Linked DNA regions of Homo sapiens: region 2 is linked to region 1. A link means that fine-mapping ties the variant in region 1 to the expression of a gene that starts in the linked region. Tissue or cell type: tibial artery. Region 1 holds a variant in brackets; the other region holds the start of a gene. All regions are shown on one strand. Distances are from middle to middle.

Region 1 (8,107 bases):
AATCCCAGCAGTTTGGGAGGCTGAGGCAGGTAGATTGTTTGAGGCCAGGAGTTCAAGACCAGCCTAGGCAACATGGCAAAACACCATCTATACTAAAAATACAAAAATTAGCCTGGTGTGGTGGTGCACACCTGTGGTCCCAGCCACTCTGGTGGCTGAGCTATAAGAATCGCTTGAACCCAGGAGGCGGAGGTTGCAGTGAGCCATGATCACAGCACTGCACTCCAGCCTGGGTGACAGAGAGAGACTCTGTCTCAAAACTAACAAACAAACAACAACAACAAAAGGCAACCCTCTGGTTTGCACAGTTGGCCAGTTTTAGAAGTGTACTCTCATCTTTGCCAATTTCAAACTGCCAACTTGATGTTACTGAACATAGTCTAGAAGAGACTCTCATAGTCGACTCTCACAAACCGACAGAAGCAAGCTCTAGAACATACACATACACACGACTTATGTCTGGGGTGTGTGTGCACGCGTGTGTGTGTGTATGTGTGTGTGTATATGTGTGTATGTGTGTGTGTGTATTGGAGGCTAATGTAATTATTTTGCCTAAAATGTCTACAAAATTGTCTTATGGTCCAGGCATAGTGGCTTACACCTGTAATTCCAGCACTTTGGGAGGCTGGAGCTGGAGAATCACTGGAGACCACGAGTTTGAGACCACTCTGAGCAACATAGCAAGACTCTGTCTTTACAAAACCTAAAAAAATTAGTTGGGGTTGGTGGTGCATGCCTATAGTCTCAGCTACGTGAGAGGCTGAGGAGAGAGGATTACTTGGGTCCAGGAATTCAAGGCTGCAGTGAGCTATGATTGCATCACTGGACTCCAGTCTGGGCTACAGGGGGAGACCCTGTCTCAAAAAAAAAAAAAAAAAAAGCCATATTTACCTTTATTGTTATACTTATCCCAACCACCCTGTATTGATACCTCCTAGTTCCATCCTTTTACTTCAGCCATATAGAGGCAATCAGTTGCTAGCAAGTGTAATCAGTCAACACCTTTCCTCAGATTTCTGGTTACCTTATGGTTACCTATAGCTTTAAACACATTTGTTCAGCCTTAAAGAAATTTTTGGGTTGAAGATTTGGAGTCTTTTTTTTTTTTTTGGTTTAAGAATAACAGCACCAGCCGGGCGCGGTGGCTCACGCCTGTAATCCCAGCACTTTGGGAGGCTGAGGCAGGCAGATCACCTGAGGTTGGTAGTTCAAGACCAGCCTGACCAAAATGGAAAAACCCTGTCTCTACTAAAAATACAAAATTAGCTGGGCATGGTGGCACATGCCTGTAATCCCAGCTACTTGGGAGGCTGAGGCAGGAGAATCGCTTGAAACTGGGAGGCAGAGGTTGCAGTGAGGGGAGATCGTGCCATTGCACTCCAGCCCGGGCAACAAGAGTGAAATTCCATCTCAAAAAAAAAAAAGAATAACAGCACCAAGTTAAGTTGGACTGTTCATCTGGGATAGGTTTCAGATGAACATTTGATTGCCTTTACTACTTCTCACTTCTGTTCCTGGACATATGCCTAATAATTAGATTATTGCTATTTTCCAGGTCTTTGTATTTTATCTGTGGGGAATATAAGCAGTAAGAAAAATGTTCATCAGGGCTCTTAGCAAAGATCAAAGAGGTATTTGAAAGTGTTTTCTAATAATCTGGTAATTGTTTAACAACATGTGAAGTGTTCCAATAGAAACTTCTTATTGCCTCCAGTGGACTTAAAAAAATCAGATTCTGCTTTCTTTTTATTTTCATAGTTACTATTAGTCTAATACTGAGTTAAGTTTGAATGCAAAGTAATAGAATATGAGAACAATTGGATCAACCAATCCTCTTTAAAATGCTTTTCATTTAACAAAATGCCATCAGCATTTAGCCACACAGCAGATTTAATACCCAGTCACTGTGAAGCAACTCAGAGAATAATGGAATGATTTGGAGTGCCGCTGGTGGTTACAGGAAATTTTACAGTGATGTGTTTGGTGTTTAGCTCACAGATTTCTTCCTCAGAAGACTGAATGGTTCTAGCAATGAGCTAGCAACATGACTCCACAAGTTCTTTGAGAAGCCTTTATTCGTGTTGCACAGGATTTCGGCTTCTGGCCTCCTGGAGTTAATTGCAGCCACCAGTCTTTCCTGCAGAGCCAGCTGCTTTTTATGGTCAGAGGAGATAAACAGAGGCTCAATAGGAGATCTATTTCTAGGCATTGAAAGGGCCTCTGTGCCGCTGGTTGAGGGGAAAATCATCCAATCTCCCTCATGAAATGCCTGGACCATTTCTTGGGGCTGTCCTCCTTAAACTGGCACTTCCTGTACCCAGTTTAAATAGTAGATAGGCTAAAAAATATAAGCCTTAAAAAGTCTTAAGGTATGAAATCATGTCTAACTGAGCAAAACAACATTCAAAGTTGGCAAGCTAATATGTGTTCATTCAATGTTGAATTAATGGCCAGTATGGGAAGCATATTAATTGGGGGCGGGGGGGAAAAAAATCACAATTATAACCCAGCAGTTGTCAATAACATTTTCTGGGTTAAGAGTGATTTGCTTGAGGGAAGGGGGAAGGGAGTTTCCATTCATTGAATACTACTTTGGGCTTCCTACACGAACGGTATCCAAAGTACACTTATTCCCATTTTATAGTTGTTAAAGCAAAATTTAACTTTATAAAATTGTAAAAGAGGATTATAATTGCTGTAGTTTGATTTTATTGCATATTATTGGTTATATAATATGGTATAAGTATATGAGAGAGCTGGTTCCCCTCATAGTCAAGGGAAGGAAATTTGGCTCCAGGGTTGAGCACCTGGTCCGAGGCTGCAGCACCCAGGAGGAGGCACAGAAACCAGGTTTTTCGACTCCTGAATCAATGCTCATTTCACTACCCAGACCACCTTATTTATATGATGGAAGTTTCTTGATTAGGAAGCAAGTCAATAACAAAACCCCTAGTTTCAGTTGTAGCATTAAGAATAAATATCTTCTTTCACAATGATTTTTATTTCTGAAAAGAAATAGCCTTCTGTCAAGAAACAATGCACTTTTAAGATATTTTTCACTATTACCAATTGATTACATAAAAATGCATACTGTAGAAGGAGATAGAACGATTTGATTCCAGCTCTAGGAAATAAATGTGCTGCTCAAATGATTTTCTAATAAGATAGCATCTGCTTATATTGCTATTTAAAAACTATTTAGGTCCATTTAAATTAGTTAGAATCACCTTCACAAATAGGAGTGTGCCTTTAAATTCAATGCATTACATATGGAAATAGGTTCTCTAAGGTTTACAGACTTTTGAATTTTAGTGTAAGATGTTGTCGCCTTTGTTCTGTAATAAAAACACACACATTTTCTAGAAGGAAAACTCTGCCTGTATCAAATTGGTTGTATGTCCCCTGCATCCTAAAACCAGATTATTCCGAGGAACAGTGGATGTGGAGTGGGTTTTCTACCATGGAAGGCTGGGGTGCTCCCTGGACTGTGCTGTGGCCTGTCCTAGGGCCCCTGCTATTGTTGGGTTGGCTGTCCCAATCCTCCAGGGAAGTCCATATAGGGAAGAAGGGAATGTGTTCTTTCATTCCTTCAAAAATATTTGTTGAGTCATTGATTACTATGTGTTAGACACTGTTCTAGTTACGGAAGCAGCACATACCAGACATTTTAAAGTCCCAACAACCCTTTCCCATA[G/A]GTCTATTATAATTTTATAGATGAAGAATCTGACATACAAAGAGATTAAGTAACTTGCCCCAGGTCCCTGAGCTAAAAGGTAGTAAAAACTGGAGCCTAAATTTGTATGGGCCCAATGTCTATGTTCTTTCTATCATGTCTAGTGTACATGTGTATATATATATATGTGTGTATATATATATACACACACATACACACACACATATATGTACACACACACTTATATATATCACATTTAGGACATACTTATACTAAAAATTACTGCTTGTCTATCTGAAATTAAAATTTAACTGAGTGTATTATATTTAATTGGGCAACCCCTTGGAAGTGTTTTTCAGGGCCAGCAATGAGGCAACAGGATATTATCACGTTTCCCTTATTTCTTTCCTTTGCATGTTTCAAAGTAAATTGCATACACACAGAAATTCAAAGACGCTTTAAGAAATCTTTTGCTCAAGAAGAACAGTATTTTGTTTTGAAGGATGTAATTGAAACGAGGAAACTAGGAAAGCATGCAGCTTTCCTTCCTTTTTTTTCCCTTTTCCTTCCTCTCTCTTTTCTGTTATTACTCTCTTTCTTTTCTTTTACTTTTTACTTCCTTTCTTCCTTCTCCCTTTGTAGAGCACATATTAAGGGCCAGGACTTGTGCCCTGTTGGGGATAATTGTCCCTGCCTTGAAGGAACACAAAGACCTGAAGGAAACTGTGAAAAGTGCTGTAATAGGTTGAATGGTGTCTTCCCAAAAGTTAATGTCCTCTTGGAACCTCAGAATGTGACTTTATTTGAAATAGGGTGTTTGTGGATGTAATTGTAGTATTTAAGTGAAGGTCTGTATTCCTTTGTTAGGGCTGTCATAACAAGGTACCACAGACCTGGAGTGGGAGGGACTTAAACAATAGAAAGTTATTTTCTCACAGTTCTGGAGGCTAGAAGTCTAAGATCAAGGTGTAAACAGGGTTGATTTCCTCTGAGGCCTCTCTCCTTGGCTTGCAGTTGGCCATCTTTTCTTTATGTCTTCAGCATGAACTTTCCTCTGTGTATGCCTGTGTCCCAATCTCCTCTTATGAGGATGCCAGTCATATTGGGTTAGGGCCCACCCGTATGACCTCATTCTACCTTACTTAGTTCCCTGTGTCAAGATTCTATCTCCAAATACAGTCACAGCCTGAGGCTGTGGGGATTAGGACTTCAACATATGAATTTAGAGAGAACACATTTCTGCCCCAAAGATGACACTGGATAAGGTTGGGTCCTATATCCAATGACTGAAGTGAAGTGAAGATACAGCAAGTCAAAGAATGCCAAGGATTGCTGGCAACCACCAGAAGCGAGGAGAGAGACAAAAAACAGATTCTCCTTCAGAGCCTCCAGAAGGAAACAGTGCTGCTGACACTTTGATTTCAGACTTCAGGCCTCTCTATGAGAGAATTAAGTTTGTTGTTGTAACCCACCCAGTTTGTGGTATTTTGCTACTTCTACCCTAGAAAACTAATACAAGTGCCTTGCTCAGTGGTGATTTACAAAGAGTCCTTAACAGAGGGGGCCATGGTGATGCACCCTGGATGGTACAGGCAGGATGGCATCTAGCAGGAGAAAATGCTGGGGCTGAGGACGATGGAGAAGTAGGAGTTAGGAGGAGGAGGAGGAGGAGGAGGAGGAGGAGGAGGAGGAGGTAGAGACCCAGCCTATGGGAGTATGCAGATGCACAGCTGCTTGACAGGGCCTGTCTGGATTACAGAAATAATAGAACTGAACAGTTGGAACTAACTTTAAATATAGGTTACATGGACCCACATTTCATTGCTGAAAGAGATCTTAGAGACTACCCTTGCACTCCTTGATTTTAGACCAAAGTCTGGGAAGGTATGTGGCTATGCCAATATCACAGAGCAAATTAATGTAAGAATTCAAGATAGGAATCCATTTGTCCTAAATCTTTGCCTAGTACTCTCCACAAGACCAGGATTGGAGCCCAGCCTTCACCAAGATCCACATACAGGGTATGTCTAATAACACAGGAGGGGCCCTAAACATGCTTACTACTACTACTACTACTAATAAACTGAATAAGTAATGTTGAATAAACTTTCAATGAATTGAATGTCAGAAAGAAAATAACTGGTATTATGCTATGTACTTTCATATACACTGTCTCATTTGATGGGAACAAAAACTTCTATCTGTTGTGTTATTATTCCCCAATTTCCAATTACTCTTTTAGAGTTGCAGATGTCAAAGGACAGTTTGGGTACCCTGCCTCAGAGTCCCTGGTTAACAAGAGAAGGGCTCTGAGAAGCAGTCTAGCTTGATAGCTCAGGGCTCCCAGGCCCAGGTTTAGATCACACCTCTGTCCTTGCAGACTCTGTGATGGGGGAGGTTATTCAGTCTCTGTCAAGGCTAATAAATAATGCAACAACGGTGATTCTAATAGTTTAAAACGGATCAGGATACCCTGATGTAGTGGGAAAAAACTTGCCCTTGGTATTCAAATCAGATTGATGATGCAACTCTGTCCTGACTTCACTTTCCTCATCTCTGAAATGGGAATAATGTTTATCTCATAGGGTTGTGAGGATTTTCCAGGAAAATCGCACACAACCCCGCACGTTTCTACTTGTTAAAGGAACTCAGCCGAAATTCTTGCCAGCTTTCGTCCCGACCCCATCCCCAGGGCTCCTCCTGGTTCCTGGTGGGCCCTCTTTCCTAGTCTATTTTTTTTAACTTTCTCTTCGTTTTGTCTTTCCTTTCTCTCTCCCTTTCATCTCCTTCTCCCCCCGTTACTTTTCTTTTGGGTTACCTTTTTAATGAGATGTAGAAAATGTATCAGCAGGTTTATGAAAAGTGAACTGGCAGATGGAAGATGTCACCATGACACTGAGGAAAACTGTTTTCTAACCCCCACCAAAGTAATTTAATTTACACATTTACTTCCTCAAAAAAAGAAAAAAAAAAGCTTTTATGCTTTCAGCACGCAGGCAATGGAGACAGCCTCGGGTCGTGTTGCCCACACGCAGGTGCTGCTAGCTGCCTCCCAGTCGCTCTCCTCGCGCATCTTCCCAGGGGACATCCGCCCTCCCGGGACTGTGCTCCGGACAGCGGGGGAGGGCAGAGGGAGGGGCAGGGAGGTGACAAGCAGCGCCCCGCAGTGTGCACCGTGCGCTTCACTCCGCGCTCCTCTCCGTGCACCCAGACCCAGAGCAGCCCCGCCCGGCAGCCAGCACAACTGCCCCGCGCCACAGGCCGCCGGCCTCTGCTTGCCAGGGCTGCGGGGGAAGAACATGCCCCCGTGCACTAGCTCCGCGTTCCCGAAGGAAGGTTTTCGCAGCCATGGGCAGTGGGCCTTTAGTCTCCCGCTCCGTGCAGTGGGAAGGGATCAACTGAGCGGCGCGGAGCCATCAGTGGTCTCTGCGTGGAGGCTGCAGCCCCGCCGACGCCCTCGCCTTCGCCCTCGCCCCCGCCCCCGCCCCCGCCCTCTATACTGTGGACAAAGGCAATCCGGATTTGTTTTTGTTTTCGTGGTTTTCTTTGTTGATGATGGGAGCTGGAAACTGGGGAGGAGAGAATTTTGCAGTTGTGAAAGGGCATCTCTCTCTTCCCTTACTTATTATTTTCTTCAAAGATAACAGAATTTCCCCATGGCAGGAACCGCAGACTGGCAAGCAGGAGACCTGAGTTTGAGTTGAGCCTTTGCTATGTGACCTCAAACAAACCATTGAACTGTATTTTTTATTTTTTATTTTTTAGTTTAGCTGGGCTTAGCTTTGTTGTTTTCTTTCCCACATTGTTTATAAAACGAGGATACTAATAACACCACAGAGGGGTTGTAAGGATTACATACACGTGAACAGACTATGTGAACGCATAGTAGGCGCTAGATAAAGATTTGTTTTGAAATTATCCATAACAACACCTCCAATATAAGGAATAAGAGACCTAGGAAGCCCAGAGAGGGCAAGTTAGCATGCCAGTTGGAGGATGAAAACCAAGGCTGGAACTAAGGTTTCCCATTTCCAGCTTCGTGTTCTTCCCATTTCCCACTCTTCCGCTGATTCTAACCTAGTGCACTTACAACTCTGGAGAAGGGAGACCCAGTTGGAATCCCTGGCTTCACCATTCTGAAGTTGAGGCGTCTTGGGCACGTCTCTTATAAAACTTTTTTGTTTTATAGTTTTGTAATTTGTTCCTCAAACGTTTCAATGCCTATGATGTACCTGCCAGTTACCATAGACGGTGGAGGGGACCCAAAAATGAATAGAACATGATCCGTGACCTCATGGAATTCACGTTCTTGCTAGAGGGCCTCATGCATAATATAAGCAAAAATAAATAACCAATCTGTTGGTGATTATATTAATAGAGCATGGTGGAAGGAAGAGTTCTGTTTAATGTCGGGGGTTGGGGGGGATCCCAATG
Region 2 (8,104 bases), 140 kb after region 1:
TGTCTAAAAATCCATATTCCTATCTTCCAAGTTGACATCTTCTTTCAAAGAACTGTGCATCTCCTTTTACAAAAATATTCAGTTAACCAGGCAATAGTCCAACTCACATTTAATATGCAATTTAATGTTGGCATAAAATGTTTAATAGGGACTCTTTTATTTTCTTAAATGATGTTAAATAATGCACTATGTGGCACAAACTAAAAGAAATGGTGGAAAAAAGTCACTAATAACTCTTTATCTCAATACATCATTTTTTTCAAAAGGTCTTAAGAACCCTGAAAGTTTAGGCTTGACACATTTGCTTCTGTCAAACCTAAGAGACCTTTTAAGATGAGAAAGAAAGCACTCACTATGCCCTTTTGATGTGGTTCAGTAGGGCAACAAAATAACCATGCAGTTTGACTTTGTTTTGCTTTGGAACTGGTGGGTTATTACAGGTTGTCTGCAATTACATTTCATTGATGAGGAAATTAAGGCATAGAGAGGTTAAGTGACAGAGAAACACAACCTTTGAGTAGAGGGACCATAGAATTGACACAGATCAAAAATATTACAACCACAATCCTGTATTTTTAACCAACTAAAAAAGGCTATTTTATGTATAAGCTCAAAGTTTATCTAAGCTCTTAAATTCTAAGTTTAATAACCAACTTAGCAAACCTGTTACTTTTGTCCGCTTTAAGCCCTTTGTCTTTTGTCTTAAGTATCAAGAAGCTCAGAATAGAATTTAGTGCCAATGCAGAACACCACTTCCTAGCCTTGGTTTCTGGGGCAATCTCAGGCCTTTCAAAAATTCAGTAGGTTTTAGTTGCCCATCTGTTATATACCAGACAACGCTGTAGATGCTAAAGATACAGACCTGTACAAATAATGTGAAAACTTCTGTCTTGACTTAATTACTTAAGTGTAAGACAGAGTATGTTAGTGCTATGGAGAAAATAAAAAGCAGGAAAAAAGAGAGAGAGCGTGGGGTGAGGCTCAATTTTTAAAAGGGTGGTCAGTGAAAGTCACAGGGCATGACATTTGAATATAGCCCTGAAAAGGAGTGCAGTGAGCAGATAAGAGGGCCATGGAGGGAACCTTCCTGGAACAGGGAAAACCAAGTACAAAAGCCCTGAGGTGAAAGCATGCCCGGTATCTATGACTCATCTTTTTGTTGCTGTTTATTATTTTAAATAATGTATATTCTTCTTTTTTTTTGAGAGGAGTCTCACTCTGTTGCCCAGGCTGGAGTGCAATCATGTGATCTTGGCTCACTGCAACCTCTGCCTCCTGGGTTCAAGTGATTCTTCTGCCTCAGCCTTCCAAGTAGCTGGGATTACAGGCATGCGCCACCATGCCCAGCTAATTTTGTATTTTTAGTAGAGACGGGGTTTCACCATGTTGGTCAGGCTGGTCTTGAACTCCCGATCTCAGGTGATCCACCTGCCTCAGCCTCCCAAAGTGCTGGGATTACAGGCGTGAGCCACCGCACCCGGCCAATAATGTGTATTATTATTTATTGAAAGTCCCAGCAAATACTTTGGAAGAAGGTCAGGCACATACATACAATCAGAAATGCTGCAGACAAGCTTCAGATACTGTGTCACTGCAGAGGAGTTTTTAGTGGTTGTACTGTACACTGCAATGACCACTTGACTATGTCCCTCTGTCTCCCTACTACCATTACTAAAACTTCCTAAAACTAACTTATGAGGTTTAATAAAGAAAAAGAAAACTGCTTTGGGGAAAGGGCCCACCATAAGGAAATCAAACTGCTAGGTAAAGTACCCCAAGCCACAATGACTACCTCCCTTGAATTTCTGGAATGTGTATCCAGCATTTAACAGGAAGTGCTATCTGGAATTGTTACTCTATTGACATCTCATCCCATGCTACCTTGTATTGTTCTTTTGTACACATCTGCTCTCACAGTGACTTCCCTGGAGGCGGGCTTATATTTTGGAAATGTCTGAATCCCATCGCAGGGCAGCGAAATCTGTTTTGAGGATGATGATACAGAAACTACCACAACCAGCAGCAGACATTCCTCCTGTTTTAAGAATCTCTGTAGATAAAGCATGAAAGAAACAACAGTCTCTCAGAGGCTTTTAAATAATCCCAACTATTTTAGCCAACTTACTGTTTATGTAACATACCGTTTTAAGTCTTTGTTTGCATTTTTAGTTAGGGACTGTACACACTTTCAGTCTAGACCCAAGCATGAGTTAGCCAAAAAACATAGAGGAATCACATGGTACGGAGCCCTGTTCAGTTTGTCCCAGCCAATGTTATTAAAAACACTATGATGGGCAAGGGACTCAACATGAAGCTACCACATATGGGACTCTAAGACATTGTCCAGACAGTCTAACAAGACAAGCAGACACGAAAGAAACAACTTCAGTGCATGTAAGATAATATAAGATACTGTGAAAGTATATAAGCAGTGACTTGGAGGGTGAGGCAACGCTTCACAGAAGAGTTGGCACCTGAACACACAGGGTTTTGAAAGATGAATAGGCCTAGGACAATTGGACACAGGATCAAAGGGCATCCAGGATTGTGCAAAACACTGGCAGAAACATCACAGATTGAAAACTGCTGGAAGAACGCATTCACCGTCAGTGAAGGAAAGCTGGTCTGGTGCACTCTCAAGCTTTCCAAGAAAAAAAACCAAGTTTTCAAATAAAAGCAGAGGAGGAAAGTTTCACCAGTGCTTGTTCTGAGAAACCTCTTAGCCTCTCTTTGCTTTGTTTTGCTCTTTCTGTTTTGCTTCCCTCTTAAAGAGTGCTGGCTTAAAACCTCAGTGAAAGAAAAGTACTTCAACTTTACTGTGGAAAAAGGAAACTGAAAAGTAGGCAAAGGCCAAGGGATACATTTTTTTAAACATTCACTCTTTCCTGGAATATACAAATGAAGCAAAATTACAAATTCATGTATTATGGGTCTGAAATATTTATTCCAATTCTTTTCTCCACCAGCTCCATAAATATTTATTCTATGCCCACTGCTTGTTAGTTTCTGGGATACCAGGCCGATGAGGCAGTCTCTTCCTCTCCTCCTTTGAGCAAGCTTGTGCTTGCAATCCTGTATAAGAAATAAGAGGAGGGCAACAACTTGTATCTTGTGCCTTCTACACATGCCAACCATAGCCTGAAGTTCACAGCAAAGTTAAATTCCAGTTAAGTAAACCAGTGAGGTCATAATACACTTAAATAACAACTGAGACGTGAGAAACTAACAGAGATCCTCAGTAAGTGTGTCGGTCACCTCTTCGCGCGAGCAGGGAGATCAGATCGAGAGCAGGACCTCCTCGCCAGTGATTTGGAATGATAAATGGGGAAGAGAAGGGGGTGAAGTTACCTGGGCGCTCAGGTAGACTTTGAGGCACTCCTCGCACACGGCCTTCTTGCAGCAAGGCAGGGGCTTGATGGGCTTGTCTTCCAGGCACACCCGGCACATCAGCACCATGAGGGGCACATAGGGATCCCCTACACCGCCCAGGCCAGAGTAGGGTGGAGCTCCCAACAGGCTGGGCATGGAGAACGGCTCGGGCGCCAGGTAGAACTCCAGCTCGATGCTGCCGCCGTCGGGGGAGAGGGAATCCGTTGGGAGGGACAGTCGGGGGCTGGGGAAGGAAGAGCGGGTGCTGGGAGGGTTCAACACTGGCGGAGCCCCAGGTGGCGACGCGGGCGGCGAGAGCTGCTCCGAGGCGGGGGCCTCGGGCAGGTCGCTCTCCACGCAGTACACGGAGCAGAAGACTTGTCTCTTGGCGAGGGACGGGCGCCGCTGACCCAGCACGTCCAGGACCAGTCCGTCGGCGGCCCCCACGCGGGTCCTGGGCTCCAGCTCTTCGCCGGGGGGCGCCTCCTGCTGTTCATCCCCTCCCTCTTTTCGATCCCCAGCTTCCTCCTCTTCCTCCTCCAGCTCCAACTGCAGTGGCAAGGTCTGGGGATTGAGAGGCCCGGTGAGTGCCAGTCCCGCAGGCTGCGCCGGTGCTCGGCTCTTACTCCAGCCCGGGGGCCCCAGGCTCCTCGCGGGCTCTGGGGCGCTGGTGTCCGCGCAGCCCCAGTCGCTTCCGCAGCCACCGCCGCTCGGCTCCGCGGAGGCGGCGCGCAGCGGGGGCGCCCGGGCGCTGTCCCCCTGAGGCCTCGGGGGCTCAGGGTGGCCCGCAGTGCCACTGGCCAGGGTCTGCGACTCCTGGGGCCCGCCGCCGCCGCTCACCGTGCTCTGCTCCTCGCCCATCGCCGCCCGCGGCCCGCGCCGCCGCTGCCCATCCAGCCGCCGGGACCCCCACCCGGCGCCCGCGGGCAGCGGGGGCAGTGGCTCGGCTCGACTCGCGGCTCCGCTTCTGCTTCCGGGTCCTTCCTCCTGGGCTGGGACGCCCCAAGTCCCCTCCGGGGAGCCCGTGCTCCGAGGCTGCGGCGCGTGGGGAGCCTGGCCCGGCCCGCCGCTCCTCCTCGTACTCTGGCGCGGCGGGGCACCGCCTCGGGGGCGCCGAGGGCCGCTCGCTCTGGGCTCGGGCGCGCCCGCCCCACATGCAGCTCGGGGCGGCGCCGCAGCCCCAGCGAGCCCCAGGCGGGACAGAGGGGTCTGGGAGGAGACGGCCGTCAGTCCCGCGCCATCACCGGTCCCGGCTGCCGGACGCGCGGCCCGAGGGCGGTGGTCAAAGGGTCGAGGGGCCTGTGGCGCCGCCGCGGCGCGCACCAGGAGGTGCAGCCGGAGCGCTGGCCAGCCGCAGGGCCCCTGGGGGAGAGGCCGGAGCGGGCGACCTCCCTCTCCCCGCGCTTCACCTACAGCCCTCCTCGCCGCCCCTCACCCCACCCCTTTGGCGCACACCTCCCCACACGTACACACGCGCGCAGGCACCCGCGCACACACACACGCACACCCTGAGTGGGTGTGATCTAAGAGCTGAGATGCGCTTTCTCGCCCGGAGTTCACACTCAGCCTCAACAAAACCCTCAGAGCAGGCAGGCTCCCCTTTGGTCTCCGCATTCAGTAGAACTTCCTACAAAACTACACTCAGCTCTGGAATTAGTAAACGCTGGCTATTTAGGATGTCGAGTTCAGAGAAATAATGCTAAGGATTATGAATTCTAAATGCTGTATATTACAACTCTGTTTTTCTGCCTAGTGGAGTAGGAAGAATCTTCGAAACCCATAAATAATCGAAAAAGCACTTTCGATCTACTCCTCCAACTGGAATCCTTAGAAGAGTTGATAACTAATTTAAAATTTCTCTCTTTTTCTTCGCCTACAGTGTTCTCTTAGAAGTTTTTTTTTTTAACCCTTTTCAGCATTCCAAAATGGATAGCACAAGGTGGAAAAATGTCCTGACCTAATTAATAAACTGGATCATTAGTGGAAATCATGGGCAGTTTCATTAGCATAACCATATTTATCCTCAAAACTGTTTCCAAAACAACAATTATATGTGAGCCAGGACTTAATTATGTGTTGATCTATCTTTATTTTACAGGAAGTATTACTCACCCAGACACTGGTGTTTTAGTTCCCTAAAGCCAGTGAAAACATTTTTGGGAAGCCAGCCCTTGTTTTGTTTTTTTTCTCCTGAGAGGGAATTCAATTTACACATTCATGTAATAGCAAGGAACTGTAAAGTGTGTAGAATTTTATTTTTTAATCTCGAAGTTGTTATTGGGTTGTTCTAAAATATTTTCCAAATCAGATGCAAATGATACAAAGGTGACTAGCGATGCAAACTAAGAAAGCAGTGTAATGCCAAAGAACATTTCCATCATATATGTGTGTCTGAGGCTCAGTTGCAAGCAAAGGTATGAATTGGATGTCTAAATGCCATGTCATCTATCGGTCTGACCCAAGAATGGAAAATTCTTATTTTGAAGATTAAATGCTATTCGAGGATTCTTTTCTTTTTTATCTCAGCTAAGTGATTTCCTGGTAACTGCTGTTTTCTCCAAATGATACTTTAAGTGCTTATTGTTTTAAAGACAGAGACAAGAAACCTACTTATGTGTGCCTTTTGAGTGTGCCATCTGATGACCAAGCCACTATTCTTTCCAGAGATATAAAAGTAATCTGCATTTTCCAGGTGACAACAGGCTAAGACCAGAGTAACAATAATGGATGCCAAAAAGTATATTCCCACAGCGTCTATTGGAATAAAACCCCTCAAAGTCCTCTTATAGTTTTGGGAACCCCTCCTCACACACATTTTTCACTCGTATTCTGAGAACTTGTTCTTCCAGTGTTTACCATTTTATTCCTTATCCCTTAGGTTCCAGCTTACTGGAAGTGGCTGTCCTCTACACCAAACCCATTAGAAGTCCCTGCTGGGACTCATGATGGCCGCCCATATCTCTGCTGCTTAAAACTGCAGCCCTTTATTTTGCCATGACTTCTTCCCTACAGAATTCATTGGGCCTTTGTGAAAATAGAATAATATGTGGTTCCCTATTTCCACCCTCCAAATTGGCCCAAACTTGCCTGAATCCTTGACCCACCACCCCTGGCATTCAATCTAGTGCTCATGGGACTCCAGCAGCATGGAAGTGAATTAAATTGAAAAGTTAACATCGTGGTTCCACAATGAATTTTCTCTGAAGTGCATGAAGCACCAGTAATGATTGTTTCGATGGGATTAATTATTTAAAGAAGGATTGGTTGAAAATATTTTATTAACCAATATTTAATATTTTAGCAAAAATTCCATTTATCTGCCACAAGCTTAATATTCTCAAAACTCAAACCATCTGCTCCATCTCAGGTTGTACACAACTGTTGATACAACGTAAGTACTATCACTAATATCCTGCTCCTACCAACATAAAGCCTCAAAATGTCCTAATCTGCAGTGAACTGTGTACCTTCCCTAAAATCCAGACTTCAATATCAGAAAACTATGTCAGTTTTAGAATGCTGTTTTTTCTATTATTGCCTTTCTTATCCTGGCATTAAAACATGACTTCTTTTTGGCTCCCTTCAATTTTTTTAAATCATTTTTATTAATGCATAATATTTGAACATATTTGTGGGATATATGTGATATTTTGATATATGCATACCATGTGTGATGATCAAATAAAGGTACACAGGATATTCATCACCTTGAACAGTTATCATTTCTTTGTGTTGGAAACATTTCAAATATTCTCTTCTAGCTGTTTTAAAATATACAATATATAGCTATAGTCAGCCTACTGTGCTATTGAACACTAGAACTTAGTCCTTCTATCTAAGTATATGTTTGTATACATATAACCAACTTCTCTTCATCTGCCCCTGTGTTTCCAGCCTCTGGGAACTATCATTCTCCTTTCTACTTCCATGAGATCAACTTTTTAAACTCCCATATATCAAGAACATGTGATATTTGTCTTTCTGTGCCTGCCTTATTTCACTTAACATAATGATCTCTAGTGCCATCCATGTTGCTGTAAATGACAAAATTTCATTTTTTATGGCTAAATAGTATTTTATTGAATATACATACCATATTTTCTTTATCCATTCATCTGTTGATAGACACTTAGGTTGATTCCATATCAACCTCTTGTAAATAGTGCTATAATAAATATAGGGGTGCAGATGTCACTTTGATTTACTGATTTCCTTTCCTGCTACTGGATAAATACCCAGTAATGAGATTGCTGGATCATATGGTAGTTATATTTTTAGTTTTTTGAGAAACTTCCAGACTATTTTCTATAATGACTATACATATTTATGTTCCCATCAAGAGTGTATAAAATTTCCCTCTTCTATGCATCCTGGCCACCTTTTGTTATTTTTTGTCTTTTTGATAATAGTCATTCTAACTGTGGTAAGATGATGTCTCATTGTGGTTTTGATCTGCATTTCTCTGGTGATTGATGATGCTGGGCATTTTTTAAATAAACTTGTTAGCCATTTGTATGACTTCTTTTGAGAAAGAAAGTCTATATAAAAGAAAGTCTTTTGAGTTGATTTTTGTGATCAACTGTGTGAGTGATAGGTGTCTAGTTTCATTCTTATGCATAGGGATTTCCAGTTTTCTCGGCATCATTTATTGAAGAGAATGTCTTTTCCCCAATGTTTATTCTTGGCACCTTTGTTGGAAATTAGTTGGCCATAAATATGTGGACTTAATAATATT

What was found. PIP is the estimated chance that this variant, and not a neighbour inherited with it, causes the effect.
Region 2: RNF217-AS1 starts here. The variant in region 1 is fine-mapped to the expression of RNF217-AS1 in tibial artery (GTEx, PIP above 0.99). The same link has a PIP of 0.9 or more in aorta.

Annotation. Positions count from the first base shown.
Region 1 is chr6:125,098,574-125,106,680 of GRCh38, reverse strand. No RefSeq gene overlaps it. Among named protein-coding and RNA genes, the nearest start is that of TPD52L1, 51 kb to the left of the region's middle. RefSeq lists a silencer at 1,042-1,275. The variant G/A (reference allele first, on the strand shown) is at 3,695.
Region 2 is chr6:124,958,671-124,966,774 of GRCh38, reverse strand. RNF217-AS1 (RNF217 antisense RNA 1) reads left to right here and starts at 3,748. Exons shown (of 7, transcript NR_026876.1): 1 at 3,748-3,952. It overlaps RNF217 (ring finger protein 217), which reads right to left and starts at 4,338. Exons shown (of 6, transcript NM_001286398.3): 1 at 3,349-4,338. The coding sequence starts at 4,230.